Regions from separate parts of the Homo sapiens genome. Here regions 2 and 3 are each linked to region 1. Evidence: fine-mapped expression QTL. A gene starts in region 1. Each other region holds a variant in brackets. All regions are shown on one strand. Distances are between the middles of the regions. Region 1 holds the start of KLHL12 (kelch like family member 12). Region 2 overlaps ADIPOR1 (adiponectin receptor 1). Region 3 holds the start of ADIPOR1 (adiponectin receptor 1).

Region 1 (5,226 bases):
CTCCTTATCCCTCTGGTATTCACTTAAAAATTTTTAAACTTTAGAAGGAAAAAAGGCTGGATGCCGTGGCTCACACCTGTAATGCCAGGTGTGGCCACTCTGGGAGGCCAAGGCAGGAGGATTGCTTGAGCCCAGGAGTTCAAGACCAGCGTGGGCAACATAGTGAGACCCTGTCTCTACAAATAAATAAATAAAATTAAAAACAAAAAAAGGAGAAAAATTGGAAGACAAATTTAAGAAATAGTAAAATCCAATAGCTGACATGTGTGTTTTACTACATATTACACTATTCTAAGCACTTCCTATGTTATTTCATAAAATAATCTTCACAACAACCTTAATAACCATGTGTTACATATTACTATTATCCCTAACTTAAAGATGAGGAAACTAAGGCATAGTCATCTAAGTGGTAGATCTTATCCAGAATCTGCCAAAACATCACACTGTAAAAATTCAAAATTATATCAAACTTCCACTATTTTATTCAGTGAAATTAGACAACTAGAGTTCCACGGGTTTCATTTGTGTGGGGCTAATTTACCACTTACCTCACTAGTGAACATGGCACAGAAGTAATCACTACAGGCAGCCAGCACAATCCGATGGGCAGGGAAGTCTTTCTGCTCTACTCTCAATGTCACATCACAGAGGGTATTGCTCTTCCTGAGGGAGTTCATTGAATTGAGGATGGATTTAGCATGAGTATTTGTCATTATGTCTTTGGGGGCCATAATGCCTCCCATAAAGCAGTGCGGAGAAAGAACAAAATGGGTCCTTGGATTCTGCAACTACAAGAGGGAAAAAAAAACAATGAGCATATTCAAAGAACTAGGGCAACTGAACATATTTAATTAGCTTTACAAATTAAGAACCTAAGAGGCTTCCTCAGACCCAAACATACACAAGTTGAGGGCACTCCTATGCCTGGCATCACCACCAACCACTAGCCACTATCTAGTCCATGTAAAAGCTCTCTCTTCTTCCTCTGAATTCCTCTATCACGGAGTGTCCCTACCACTTGACATTTAATATGATCAATGCTGAAATGTAAGTAGAGATAAACAATATATGTCTTGTAAATCTTGACAAGGTTCTTGTCTCAAATGATAAACCGAAAATATAAAATTTCTTAAAGGTGTTATATTATTACTATTTAATGTCCTTAAGTAGATAAGTATTTAGAGCATACATAAAAAGAGGATCCTGCTTTATATGTATGCTTTCTATCCTAGAAGTTGCACAATAAATGTTTAGAATTTAATGTAAGAAAAAGTGTGTATTCAACTTCAACTTAGAGCAAGAAAGGCCACTCAGTAAAAATAAACTTTTTTCTAAAGAAGTATCCAAATGATATGTCTGATGACTTCCAAACATATCTGGATTTCTTCTTAAAATGAAACTTCAGGCCGGGCCCAACAGCTCACTCCTGTAATCCCAGCACTTTAGGAGGCTGAGGTGGGTGATCAGTTGAGGTCAGGAGTTTGAGAGCAGCCTGGCCAACATGGTGAAACCTAGTCTCTACTAAAAATACAAAAAATAGCCAGGCGTGGTGATGCGCGCCTATAATCCTAGCTACCAAGAAGGCTGAGGCCCGAGAATCACTTGAACCCAGGAGGTGGAGGTTGCAGTGAGCCGAGATCACACCACTGCACTCCAGCCTGGGCAACAGAGCGAGACTCTGTCTCAAAAAAAAAAAAAAAAAAAGAAACTTCAATTGAGGACCCATTACCTACACTGAATAATGGAAACCACGCAAGTTATCGATGGACTTACACTTGCTTAAGATATTGAAGCTCTTCAACAAGAGGGTATTCCTACTCTACATCTGTGAATGTCCATTACTGTTAAAGAATCGATATTGGAATCCAAAACTTTCTGAAATGATCCGGGGGGAAGGAAATCAAACTGTGGTCTCCAAAAGTCCACAAGTCACAATTAATCTTTCAACAGGAAAAATGAGATCCTAAATTCTCATCTACTTCTGTTTGTAGTTGGCATTTTACTCTATAAGCACTATAGATAATTCCTCCAACAACTCTGCAAGACCCATTTTACAGAAAAGCGGGTGATTCATCAAAGCATATGTTTTTCAAAAAGACTTAAGTCAACTTAGTTGCAACTCTAGGGGTGTAAAAAGGTCTAGAACAAATGTCCATTTACTATGAAGACAGCCCGGGGGGTCTTTTATCGTTTCCGTGTCAAAATGACAGTACCCCGGTGCAGAGTGGTCTTCCTTCTAGGGGATTCCTGCCTCAACACTCCAAGTCTCAGCATATCCTTCATCCTCACCCTTCTGAAGTGACCTATTTTCTAGAACTTTCGTTAACATCTGAATGGAGGGATTCCACTTCGGGAGATTCGGGGCAGGGAATGGGTAGTAAACTCGGGAAAGACTAAATTCTAGAGAAGGAAACGAAGTCCTTCCTCCTAATACCACCAGGCATATGGCCGCCACCGCCAGGTGGAGGTATCGGAGAGGGGCAGTTCAGGGGGAGAGTTGAGAGGGTGACCGAGGCCAGATGCCCCACCCCACTGCCAGCCTTCCTCCTCTGTTGGGCATGTCTCCCATTCCGCCTTGCAGGGAGACCAAGGATGGGGGGTAGGGCCATAACCCGGAGTTGACGGACAGGAAGGGAAGGGCTGACTGCCATCACTTCCGCGCAACTCACCTCCGCTCCCGAACCCACACAGCCGCACCGGGCCCGTCCCCAGCCTGTGGGGATGGAGTGCGGCGCGGGGCTAGCAGGCGGCTCGGGAGGAGCCGAAGCGCCGCCCAGACCCGGAGGCTCTGGAGGCTCTGGAGCCGTCCGGGTCTGGCCCCTGCGGCCGCGCGACGTGATGACGCAATGCAGCTGGAGCACCGCCCTCCCCCCGCTCCAGAGTCTGCGTCACGTGAGGAGGTGGTGTCACGTGACCTGTCTGTACCCTAGCGCGGGGCTTCTGTACGCTGCTAGGAAGCCGAATTACAAAAAGGTCGGGTGGGCAGGGAATGGTGGCTCACGCCTATAATCCCGGCACTTTGGCAGGCCGAGGCGAGCGAATTACCTGAGCTCCGGAGTTCCAGACCCGCCTGGGGATCACGGCAAAACCCCGTTTCTACAAAAAAAAAAAAAAAAAAAAAATTAGCCCGCACCGCGCCTGTAGTCCCAGCTACTCGAGAGGCTGACAGGAGGATCACTTGAGCCAGGCAGCAGAGGTTGCAGTGAGCCAGGATCGCCACTGCACTCCAGCCTGGGCCACAGAATGAGACCCTGTAAAAAAAAAAAAAAAAAAAAAATGTCCAGGCGTGGTGGCTCACGCCTGTAATCCCGGCACTTTGGGAGGCCGAGGCGGGTGTATTACTTGAGGTCAGGAGTTCGAGACCAGCCTGGCCAACATGGTGAAACCCTATCTCTACTGAAAATACAAAAAAATTAGCCGGGCGTTGTGGCACGCGCCTGTAATCCCAACTACTCAGGAGGCTAATGCAGGAGAATCGCTAGAACCTGGGAGGCGGAGGTTGCTGAGCCGAGATCGCGCCATTGCACTCCGGGCTGGGCGACCGACTGAGACTCTGTCTCTTAAAAAAAAAAAAAAAAGGCCAGGCGAGGTGGCTCACGCCTGTAATCCCAGCACTTTGGGAGGCCGAGACGGGTGGATCACGAGGTCAGGAGATCGATTCTGGCTAACACGGTGAAACCCCGTCTCCACTAAAAATACAAAAAAATTGGCTGGGCGTAGTGGCGGGCGCCAGTAGTCCCAGCTACTCGGGAAGCTGAGGCAGGAGAATGGCGTGAACCCGGGAGGCGGAGGTTGCAGTGAGCTGAGATCGCGCCACTGTACTCCAGCCTGGGCGACAGAGCAAGACTCCGTCTCAAAAAAAAAAAAAAGAAAAAAGAAAAAAAAGAAAAAACAAAAAAAAGGCTGGATGTTGTGGGGTCCGGCAGGGAGCCTGGGAATGTATCTACAGCTCGGCGATTGGCTGAGCCTGAGTTCCTCCCTACCGCTCACTAGGCAGGGCAGGCAGAGAGAATTCCAACGCTTAATATGCCAAGCATCTGATTGCAGCAAGTATGTTTTACCTTCCAGGTACTGAGGAACTTTTTGACATCGAGAAAACCCACAGAGGCCTCAAATTTATTCACGTCCATTGTCCACAATGGCCTTTTCGGGCCGAACAACGCTGCGGCGAGAATCCTCTGAGCCTTAGGATCCACAGACCTCAGTATATACTCTGCATCATAATGGGCCCTGTCATCACCACTGAATTGATTCTAAGGAAATTCTAATTGATTCAGGAAATTCTAATTTATTTTGGTGCACTTAGTGACTGAAAAGGCAAAAAGCTTAATTAGTTCAGCTTATCTGAATGTCTAGACAAATTGTGTTTGGTAATACTATTATGCTCTGTGAGCCCTTTGATTCTTTTTTTTTTTTTTTTTTTTTTTTGAGACGGACTCTTGCTCTGTCGCCGAGGCTCGAGTGCACTGGCGCGATCTCAGCTCACTGCAACCTCCGCCTCCCGGGTTCAAGCAATTCTCCTGCCTCAGCCTCTCCGAGTAGCTGGGAGTACAGGTGCACACCACCACGCCCGACTAATTTTTGTGTTTTTAATAGAGACGGTGTTTCGCCATCTTGGCCGGGCTGGTCTCGAATTCCTGACCTCGTGATCCGCCCGCCTTGGCCTCCTAAAGTGCTGGGATTACAGGCGTCAGCCACAGCGCCTAGCCCTTTGATTCTTAAGGGTACTAAAACCATAGCCAAGTGGGTAGCATTCTAAATTTACAACGTGTCCCCATCTTCCATGTCATACCTTCCTGATCTAAAACTGTCCCTGACTCACACATTGTAGAGAAGAATGCAAGATTGGTATATTATTGGGGGCATTTTGGAAATATTCGTCGATTTTAATAAAATTTTCCTTCACATATACTCGTGCACATGTAAAACGATGTATGTACAAGATTGTTAACTGCAGCATTGTTTGTAGATTAGATCAACAACAACATTAAATGTCCATTAATAGGGGACTGATTCAATAAGGTATAGTACATCCATAAAATCCAATACCATGAAGCTGTGAACAATTTATATACTCTATTATTGGTGTAAAAAGGTGGAAGATATATTCATATTTGCTTGTGTATGTGTAACATGTATTTGAAAAGACAAAGTGGTAACCTTGGTTTCTTTGGGGAAAGGAACTGTTTGGTTGTGAGACAGGGTGGGAAGGAGATTTTTGCT
Region 2 (5,226 bases), 20 kb after region 1:
ACGGCTGGGCAAGAGAGAAAGCACACGATGATGGACATCTGGAGCTTCCAGCAATGCATGGGCAGCAAAGATAAGCTTTACTTGACTGCTGGGTAGGAGCACCAGCAGAATGAAGCATAGACTATTTACCACACCCTACTTTGGCTTGGGCTAATAGTAAGTTACGCTTGTACAAGGTCTTGGAAAGCAGCCAGTGCACTGGCACTCTAAGCCTCACAAAAGATAGTGCTTTTCAGGTAGAAAATATATTCCACAATTGGTCTCTCCATCTGTTGAAGAGGATGCAGTAAGTCTGTTCATGAAGTGTTTAAGAGAAAAGCTTCATCACCCCACTATCGCCACAGAACAGAGAGCCTTTCCTCTGGCATATCAAGAAACCTTTAGGAGTGATATGAGCTCCTATCACCCAGTAAGCACTGGGATCTCAAGATGTGACAACAGTGCACAGTATTTTCCTATGGTGTTCTTTTAACTCACTTGGAAAAAGTCCGAGAGACTTTCTCTGAATGACAATAGACGGTGTGAAAGAGCCAGGAGAAGCTGAGGCAGAGCACTGCACCCAAAAAGAACATCCCAAAAACCACCTTCTCCTGTAGAGGGGCCATGAAGTACATATTTGGTCTGAGCATGGTCAAGATTCCCAAAAAGAGAAACAGCACGAAACCTGCAGGAGGGTAAAATAAAAAAAACCTGTAAGAAAAAAGGGAATGTGTACACTTTGATGGTTGATGTTTTTGAATCAGAGAGCTACAGGCAACATCACTAATCATCAGGGAAATACAAATTAAAAGCACAATGAAATACCACCTTACTTCTGCAAGAAAGGCCATTATTAAAAAGTCAAAAAACAACAGATGTTGGCATGGATATGGTAAAAGGGGAATGCTTATACACTCCTTGTGGGAATGTAAATTATAAACTAGTATAACCTCTATGGAAAAGGGTATAGAGATTCCTTAAAGAACTAAAAGTAGAGCTACTATTTGATCCACCAATCCCACTACCAGGTGTCTACCCAAAGGAAAAGCAGTCATATGAAAAAGACACATGCACATGTATGTTTATTGTAGCACAATTCACAACTCTAAAGATATGGAACCAACCTAAGTGTCCATTGACCAATGAGTGAATAAAGGAAATGTGGTGTATGTACACCATGGAATACTACTCAGCCATAAAAAGGAATGCAATAATGTCTTTTGCAGCAACCTGGATGAAGCTGAAGGCCACTATTCTAAGTGAAGTAACTTAGGAATGAAAAATCAAATACTGTATATGTTCTCACTTATAAGTGGGAGCTAAGCTATGAGTACGCAAAGGCATATAGAATGATATAATGGACTATGGAGACTTAGAAGCGGGAGGGGGAGATAGGGGTGTGAGACAGAAAAACTACATATTGAGTACAATGTACACTACTAAGGTGATGGGTGCATTAAAATCTCAGAATTCACCAGTATATAATTCATCCATGTAACCAAACCCCCCCCCACCCCTTTGTAACCCAAGAGCTATTGAAATAAAAAAAAAATCAGAAAGCTATGAGGTTTAGCTGTGTAATTGCAGTCCAATGTTTCAAAGAAAGTGGCACTGGTCACAGAAACCCAGACAAAAAAGACCATTTTTTGAAATGTTGGCATTTTACTTTTACAGTTGGAAATTACGAAGTACAAGGAATTGTCTCCACCTAGAACAGTTCTGCCAGGGATCACAAAAAAATATCTAGTCCCAATTTCTTTGGTTTCTAGGCCTTTTACTCTCAGTCTTAAAGATCAGTGATCAAGGGTCAACCAAGGTTATTAGCTTAAAGTCATTAGTAGTTTAAAGGTAGAATCCCAGCTGCCAATCGATCTGAACAACTTTGTTGGGCTCTATAATCCCTTCGCAGTTAGGGAGACAACAAATTCCACCTTTCCCCATCCAAATCACTCACCAAGCAGATGGGTCCAGATGTTGCCAGTTTCTGTATGAATGCGGAAGATGCTCTTGAAGCAAGCCCGAAAGGAGGGCATGGGAGGTCTATGACCATGTAGCAGATAGTCGTTGTCCTTTAGCCAGTCAGGGAGCACATCATATGGGATGACCCTCCAACGTCCCTCCCAGACCTAGAACATATACACTTTCTCTGGGTAGGGCACTAGATAGTACCTTCCCCAAGGACAAGCAGTGATGGAGAACTAGTCTAAGAAGATGTCAGTCAGGCTCTGAATGGTCCTAGGTAATAGTGGAGAACCAGCCTGGACTGGGGGATATCCAAGACATAGCATGAATGGGGCTAGCAGAGTCCTGACTCATATTTTGACCATTAAAAAAAAAAAAAAAATCCTGGCTGAGTGTAGCGGCTCATGCCTGTAATCTTAGCACTTTGGGAGGCTGAGGCAGGTGGATCACCTGAGGTCAGGAGTTCAAGACCTGCCTGACTAACATGGTGAAACCCTGTCTCTACTAAAAACACAAAAAATTGGCCGGGCATGGTGGCGGGCACCTGTAATCCCAGCTACTCAGGAGGCTGAGGCAGGAGAATGGTTTGAACCTGGCGGGCGGGGGTTGCAGTGAGCCGAGATTGCACCACTGCACTCCAGCCTGGGCGACCGAGCAAGACTCTGTATTCAAAAAAAACAAAAAAACAAAAACAAACAAACAAAAAATCTCTTTGTCTTTGTTTCATGTTAGTTTATCTGGAGAAGTTTTAGGTAAGTGTTTCTCAACCTTTTAAGAAAATATGGTCCAACCAGGCTGGGCGCAGTGGTTCACGCCTGTAATCCCAGCACTTTGGGAGGCTGAGGCGGGCGGATCACCTGAGGTTGGGAGTTCGAGACTAGCCTGACCAACATGGAGAAACCCCGTCTCTACTAAAAATACAAAAATAAGCCAGGCGTGGTGGCACATGCCTGTAATCCCAGCTACTCGGGAGGCTGAGGCAGGAGAAGTGCTTGAACCTGGCAGGCAGAGGTTGCAGTGAGCTGAGATCGTGCCACTGCAGCTGGGAGACAAGAGCAAAACTCTGTCTCAAAAAAATATATATATATATATGGTACAACCTCCTTTAGGCTACTTGAAATTTCAAAATTGATATACTGAATAAAAACAAAAAAATTATAAA[C/T]GTTGTTTTAAAAAACGTACAGATCCCTCCTTTGCCCCTCTCCAGGAGATTCTATCTCATGTCTCATCCCTCCCCCAATTAGATTCTAAGTTCTTACCACATCTTTTTAGAGTAGGGGTTCTTAATCTAGGATCCATGCACTATGGACAGGATCCAGGGAATAGATGGAAAAAATTGTATTTCCATTTACCTCTAAGTAAATTGAGCATTTTCCTCAATTATAAGCATAAGCAACAAACCACAGTATTAGTAGAACTTGTGGCTTTGTCACCAATAGAAATCAGATACTCTCACACATTAGTTCTGCAGGTATCTCAAAATACTGTTTCTATTCATCATTACTTAGAAATTACAAATTTTAATAAAATACATTAGTGCTCATCATTCATGTATATTTAATGTGTTAACAAAGGCATTCATATTACTGTCATATTGAAATATTTTGATGACTTCCAAAGGCGCCCCTTGCATAGAAAAGAATCCGTTTTAAGAATATATTTTGAACAATGCCTCACAGAGTAGGCAGTAAAAATTTAGCCAGTCTTCACATTGATTTACCTCATCTTAACCAAAAAACAAATCCACTCCTTCCCAGGAATAAAAGCTCTTCGACCCAGTGCAAGCTTGCTGGCTGGGGACATCCCAGACAGGCCTGCTGCCCTTCCCCTTCCAGGACAGAAGCTCATAGGCCATACCTTGTACACAAACTCTTCCATCTTCTCCATGGCGTGGTGGGCTTGCAGGGGAAGTGTCAGTACCCGCACCTCCTCCTCTTCTTCCTGGGGCACTGGGCATGTTTGCTCTTCTTCAGCCTATGGGGGAAAAAACCCACAACAATCCAGGGAGTCATCTCATAAATTGTACTATTCCAGAGCAGAGAGACCCAGAAAAACCCAAACCTAATGCCTTCTGCCCAGCCTCTTTCCTACAGAGGGTCTTGTGGTCTCTTCTCCAAAAGCATACACACTGAGTTTACAACACTAGTTAGAAATTTATTAATACTTCGTAAATGCTGGAGTGAACATTCTATGCAGTGCGTAAAAGAAGGACTGTCACAGAGACTAGCATTGGGGGAATACACCAGCTCTAGGTACTGAATGACATCCTTTTCTTTAGGATAGTGGTTCTTAACTTTCCTCAGTTTCCCAAAGAGTTCTCTTTTCTAAGCCATTACATTTTCTTTCTTTCTTTTTTTTTTTTTGAAATGGAATATCCCTCTGTCACCCAGGCTGGAGTACAGTGGTGCGATCTCTGTTCACTGCAACCTCCGCCTCCCGGGTTCAAGCAATTCTCATGCCTCGGCCTCCAAGTAGCTGGGATTACAGGCGCCCACCACCATGCCTGACTAATTTTTGTATTTTTAGTAGAGATGGGGTTTCACCATGTTGGCCAGGCTGTTCTCAATCTCCTGACCTCACGTGATCCTCCTGCCTCGGCCTCCCAAAGTGCTGGGATTACAGGCTGAGCCACCATGCCCAGCCTACGTTTTCAAAACAACGAAAAAGACACAGAGTCTCAGAGAGTTCCATAACAATAATTCTGTTCAGAGTTCCCTGTTCACTGACTCTAGGGATGCTGTCATGATTGAAACTTTGTATCTACAGCAGCTCCCAGGAGTACCAGGGCCTCAGAACTGGTTCCATGGAAAACAGCGGTACTGACTCCAGGGCCTAAAAAAGCGCACCCAGAGGGCCGGGCGCGGTGGCTCACGCCTGTAATCCCAGCACTTTGGGAGGCCGAGGCGGGCGGATCACGAGGTCAGGAGATCGAGACCATCCTGGCTAACACGGTGAAACCCTGTCTCTACTAAAAATACAAAAAATTAGCCGGGCGAGGTGGCGGGCACCTGTAGTCCCAGCTACTCGGGAGGCTGAGGCAGGAGAATGGCATGAACCCTGGAGGGCGGAGCCTGCAGTGAGCCGAGAACGTGCCACTGCACTCCAGCCAGGGCGACAGCGAGACTCTGTCTCCAAAAAAAAAAAAAAAAAACACACCCAGGAGAGCACTTGCCTGTGAAAGGGAGAGAACTTTCTCTCTCTCTATCCCAAGGCTCCGAATCATGGCTATAGAAAGCCTGGCAGTTCAACTCCTTTTCTGGGCTATTTCTCTCCTGTTGCTGATGG
Region 3 (5,226 bases), 33 kb after region 1:
ATCTGAAACGGTGTAAACTGAAATTGGCCTTGTCAGTTTCCCATTCTCCCAAAGAGCACCAGAAACTGAGGGAAAAAAAACACTTATCTATTTTCTTAAAAATCGAAGGCTTGAAGACCAAAATTCTCAAACAGAAGATAGAATACATCAATCCTAGATACCTAAGGTAATGAAATTTCATTTTCCCCCAAAGTACCTTCGATTCTGCCCCGCATTTCAGCCTTCAGGATTACCTTAACCCTGCAGAGCGATCACCAACCTCCCTTCCCACCCCATCAAAGTGAGGGCACTGTCAGGACTTGACCTGCCAAAGATTGTTGGTGGAGGAACCTTAGGGCTTCCTGGCAACCCAATGCGGCTGTTCCCCGCTGAGAGGCGGTTCGCGACCTAGGCCCGCAGCCCTCCCTCCCCACGCGCGGCGGCCTCGGGGCCAGGCTTAACTCTGGCTCTCTGGTCCCGATCTGGGGAACCCATGCATCTCCACCCCGTGGGGCTAAAGGCGCAGCACTCACAGGACTGCCGGGAGTCGGGGGACAGCCGGGGACGAGCGCCCACCGCACCTAGGCCGCCTCGGAGGCGGCGCGCAGTGGGAGGGGCCGGAAATGTTTACAACCTGACCGGCTGGATGCCTGGAGGCCAGGCGGCTCCTTGGCTGGGGCCCGAGCCCCCTGGCAAGTCGGAGCGGGTTCCCCCAACAGCTGTCTCCTCCGCAGGCCTGGGTCGGGGCCCCCGGGGTCCCCGCGCTCCCGCCGAGTCCCTGCCCACCGCGCAGCCCCTGGGAGACTTACAGCCGGGCAGGCGGGCTCTGCTGGGGGCCGCGGTCCCCCGCGCTACATCCCGCGGCGCTGGAGGCGGCCTGCGGCCGAGCGGCCCCGATCTTCAGCGCCCTCCCCGCGCCGGAAGGGGCGCGCGACCTCCCGCGTCACCTCCGCAGCCGCGTCACCTCCTCGCGGGCTCTGCCTGGGCCCTCCAATCCTAGGCCCTCTCGCGGAGTCCCAATCACAGGCCCGCGCCCGCCGGCCACACCTCCCGCCCCGGGCCCCGCCCTGCTGCCCCGCCTTCCCTGCCGCCTGCCCACCTCCCCGCCGCAGCCAGGTAACCTCCACCCGCCCCGGGGTAGAGGACGTTCGTCGGATTCTACACTCCACCTCGTTATCGCAGCCTGAAGTGCGTGATGGAGAAGAAATTTCAGAGAATGAGACAGAACGTCGGGAGGGAATGCTGAATTTTCTACCATACACCTTATCTCATCTCCTCTGTCCCCAAGGCTAGTCGTTTCACCTCTGAAACACTTCTTAATCTCTTCTTCAACCGCATGGTCCTTCCTTCCCTTCCACAAACTATTTATTGAGCCCCTACCATGTGCCAGGCCCTGGGCTAGACCTCAGTCTGCCTCCTGTTATTTTCTTATCAGAGAGCAGAATTGTTTCTAACTACTCTTGCTGGTGAACCCGTGCCCCAGTTCCTGCTCCCACAGGCACCTAGAGTGCAGATCGCGAGACAACATAGGGTAGTGCAGCCCTTGTCTGAACCACACAACACAGAAGGGGATTTCAGGGTCTGGCCATTTTCTCATTTCTCCCAAGAATGAAATAGTATTATTTTATTCCCACTTTTCAGATGAGGTAACTATCATTTGGAGGGGTTCACTAATATGCTCAAGGTCACAGACTGGCCAGGGACAGAAGCTTGGCTCTATGTGACTCTAGAGCCCCATGCTCTGGAGCCCCAGATACAGCAATACACAGTTGCTGAAAAGCAGAAAAGCAATGTCAATCTTCCTCTTGTGAGCAAACCTTTAACTCACAGGATTATCATAAGGATTAAACTATCTGATGTAGATAGAGTACTTGGCACAGTACCTCAATATGGCTGTTAACTCAAAAAAATTTTTAATTTTTCTTTTTTAGGGACAGGTTCTTACTGTCACCTAGGCTGGAATGCAGTGGTGCAATCATATCATAGCTCACTGTGCAACTAGTGCCATTCTAGAGGCAGAGAAAGTGACTCATTGTAATCTGATATAGGTGCTTCAGGGACGTGGGGTTAATTCTCTTGGTCCTAGTTAAAAGCATGGGCTCTGGAGTCACATAGAGCCAAGCTTCTGTCCCAGGCCAGTCTATGATCTTGAGCACATTACTGAACCCCTCCAAATGATAATTACCTCATCTGAAAAGTGGGAATAAAATAATACTATTTCATTGGGTCTTTGTCAGGATTGAGTGAGATAATTCATGCAGGCTCTTATTATGAGGCCTAGCCAATGGTAAGTGCTTTATAAATGTTAGCTATTACCGTGTTGCCATTTGTATAAAACCCTCAGAAACTTTTCACTGTCCACAGGATTGAGTCCAGGTTTCTTCAGCATAGTGTTTCGAGGCTCTTTGCGAGCTGGCTCTAACTTCTAAGGCCTCATCATTCTCCATTTTCCCTCTGGCATGTTGGGCCTTGGTGAACTAGTTCTCTGAAGTGAACTTCTCTTTCATTCCTCCAGGCTGTTGCACATGCTGATCCTTCTGTTGGACTGCCCTTCTCATTGTCTGCTGCAAGATGCCAGCAGTTTACAATGCCCACTTCTAGGTTTGACTTTGGCCTCAGACAATCCTAAATTCACATTTAGGCTCTGTCAGCCACTGACCAGCTGTATGACCTTTGGTAAATTATTAATCTTCAGCTCACATGATTATCATAAGGATTAAATTATGTGATGTAGATCGAGTACTTAGCACAGTACTTGGTACATGGCTGTTAACTCAAAACCATTTTTGTTTGTATTTTTAGGGACAGGCTCTCAATCTGTCACCTAGGCTGGAGTACAGTGGTGTGATCATAAGATCATAGCTCACTGCAGCCTCGAACTCCTGGGCTTCACGGGATCCTCTCAACTCAGCCTCCCAAGTAGCTGGGCTACAGATTCGTGCCACCATGCCCAGTTAATTTTTTATTTTTGTAGAGATAGGGTCTCACTATGTTGCCCAGGCTGTCAAAAATGTTACCTCTCTTTCCCCCCTTCCTCCCTTTCTGAATCTTTCTCAACCTCTTCCCAGCTGCACTTTGTATG[T/C]ACCTCTGCTATGGTATTAGTCACACTGTTATAATTATTTGTCACTTGTTGGCCGGGCGCAGTGGCTCACGCCTGTAATCCCAGCACTTTGGGAGGCTGAGGCGGGCGGATCACGAGGTCAGGAGATCGAGACCATCCTGGCTAACACGGTGAAACCCCATCTCTACTAAAAATACAAAAAGTTAGCCGGGCGTGGTGGCGGGCGCCTGTAGTCCCAGCTACTCGGGAGGCTGAGGCAGGAGAATGGTGTGAACCCAGGAGGCGGAGCTTGCAGTGAGCCGAGATTGCGCCACTGTACTCCAGCCTGGGTGACGGAGCGAGCCTCCGTCTCAAAAAAAAAAAAAAAAATGTCATTTGTCTGTCTTAGACTGTGAGTTCTTTGGGGGTCTAAGACCAGTGTTGGTCACACTTTTATCCTCAGGGCCTCGCATAGTGCTTGGCACATGCCAGATCCTTAATAAACATTTGTATGTTGAGTGGATGAGACAAAAACCCATGCAAGACAAGGAATGGTGATCTTCCACGCAGGAAATTCTCTTTACAAGCCTGCTTCACTATCTGAGCCCAACGTTCCTAAGCAAGATTTTCCTTCCTGGAGGTGAGGTGGCTGAGACTGTGTTACAGAGCCCAGTGCCATACACATATTAGCTGATCAAGAAATGTTGGATGGAACACCACCAACAGAATTTACTGAAGGTTCTGCCCTGGGGAGGAGTGAATTCTGAGGGTCCCACAAATCTTTCTCTCAGAAGCCCCAGAAACAGCAATAGACAGTTGCTGAAAAGCAGAAAAGCAATGTCGACCTTCATTCTGAGCCCACCACATTGTTTTGTTGCAATGGGAGTAACAAAGAAGAATCTGGAGAGGCTGCCCTAGTCCTACCCTGGGAAAGGGAGTAGATTGGGTCATGCTACATAGCAGAGGAGAAGGGTACTCAGGACAGATGAGCCTGGGGGAGGCCAACTCTATCTGGGCATCAACAATTCCGGCCAGGGCTGGTGATGTCAGGTTACTTTTTAAAGAAGAAGGCTTCCCTTCCAAACAGAAAGACAACACTTTGATTTGTGTGCCAGGTTCCCTGAAGGATAAATATGGTGAAGGATAGGCCAAGAGAAGGAAGAAGGGGAAGAGTGGCCTATCAAGGGAACACTGTGAGGGGCAGCTGGGCTCAAAAATGTCCCCTCTAATGTGTGTTCTCCTTCCCCCACCTCGAGAGCCTCCAGGGAGAAGCGGAGCTCTGGCTCTGCTGAGACAGCTGCTGAGATGATCACTGAGTCTGCTGGCAGCTCACATTTCAGCACATGGTACAACTTCTCAAAGGTTCTTTGGAACACCTGGGAGAGTTGCATGGTGGCAAACCCTTCCTCCCTAGGTCCTCGGGGATTTGGAAACAAGGACCCCAGACACAACAACCCTTTCAATATCACACAGGGGCCTCAGCCCCATTTATTTGCACAGCCAGGGGTTCCTGCCACAAACAGCAGTTTTCGATTATCAGTAGCTGTTTCCCTCTAGCCTGGGCAGGGGCTGAGAGAGACACACACAGAAATATGATATTTCAGACTCCTTTGAGATCTGAAGAAATCATTTCCTCCTTTCTTGCCATCTCCATAAGACCACCTCTGGAAGTATGCTATGCTCAACTTATACTCACACATACAGATTTGCTCATAGGTTGAACAGTGAAGTTTAAGTAAAACCCATTGCACAGACTGTTCCTTTCATCACAGACACAAAGAAGGTGAGAGTAAGATGCTATCAAGGAACTAGCCAATCTTGGACCAAGCGTACATGCTCCCTTCCTTCTTACTCCATGGAAGAGACTGCTCCATGGGCCTCTCCTGGACCTGTTGCCACGGGGAGATTTAGGAGGCCATCCAAGGAGTGACTGAGCCTTGGCCCTCTTCCATGGCTACAGGAATATTGTTCCTGCAGGTACTATCCAGATTTCAGCTCTAGATGTAACTGAAAAAACCTGAAACTCTGAGGAAAGGAATCTAAGGCTTATAGTGCTTGAGTACTGATGGGGAACAACTGCAGCGAACAGCACCAGGGAAGCTGGAGGATGCTCAGTAGGTGAATCGCATCTTTTGTGAGTAGCCCAGTTTGTCCAAGTTGGGATGGCAGGCCAGCTGCACCATTGGGGGTGGCCCACAAAGCAGTAC

The links. PIP is the estimated chance that this variant, and not a neighbour inherited with it, causes the effect.
Region 2: its variant is the best candidate, but not a certain one, in a credible set for the expression of KLHL12 in whole blood (TOPMed, PIP 0.64).
Region 3: its variant is the best candidate, but not a certain one, in a credible set for the expression of KLHL12 in whole blood (TOPMed, PIP 0.74).

What each region holds. Positions count from the first base shown.
Region 1 is chr1:202,924,417-202,929,642 of GRCh38, forward strand. It overlaps KLHL12 (kelch like family member 12), which reads right to left and starts at 2,818. Exons shown (of 12, transcript NM_021633.4): 1 at 2,673-2,818; 2 at 552-791. The coding sequence starts at 746. RefSeq lists enhancers at 2,961-3,010, 4,087-4,588, 4,589-5,088.
Region 2 is chr1:202,944,506-202,949,731 of GRCh38, forward strand. It overlaps ADIPOR1 (adiponectin receptor 1), which reads right to left. Exons shown (of 8, transcript NM_015999.6): 3 at 3,799-3,915; 4 at 1,934-2,105; 5 at 478-664. Among named protein-coding and RNA genes, the nearest start is that of ADIPOR1, 11 kb to the right of the region's middle. RefSeq lists an enhancer at 1-250. The variant C/T (reference allele first, on the strand shown) is at 3,104.
Region 3 is chr1:202,957,397-202,962,622 of GRCh38, forward strand. ADIPOR1 (adiponectin receptor 1) reads right to left here and starts at 916. Exons shown (of 8, transcript NM_015999.6): 1 at 789-916. It overlaps CYB5R1 (cytochrome b5 reductase 1), which reads right to left. Exons shown (of 9, transcript NM_016243.3): 9 at 4,477-5,226. The coding sequence ends at 5,131. RefSeq lists silencers at 585-1,144, 1,445-1,494. The variant T/C (reference allele first, on the strand shown) is at 3,062.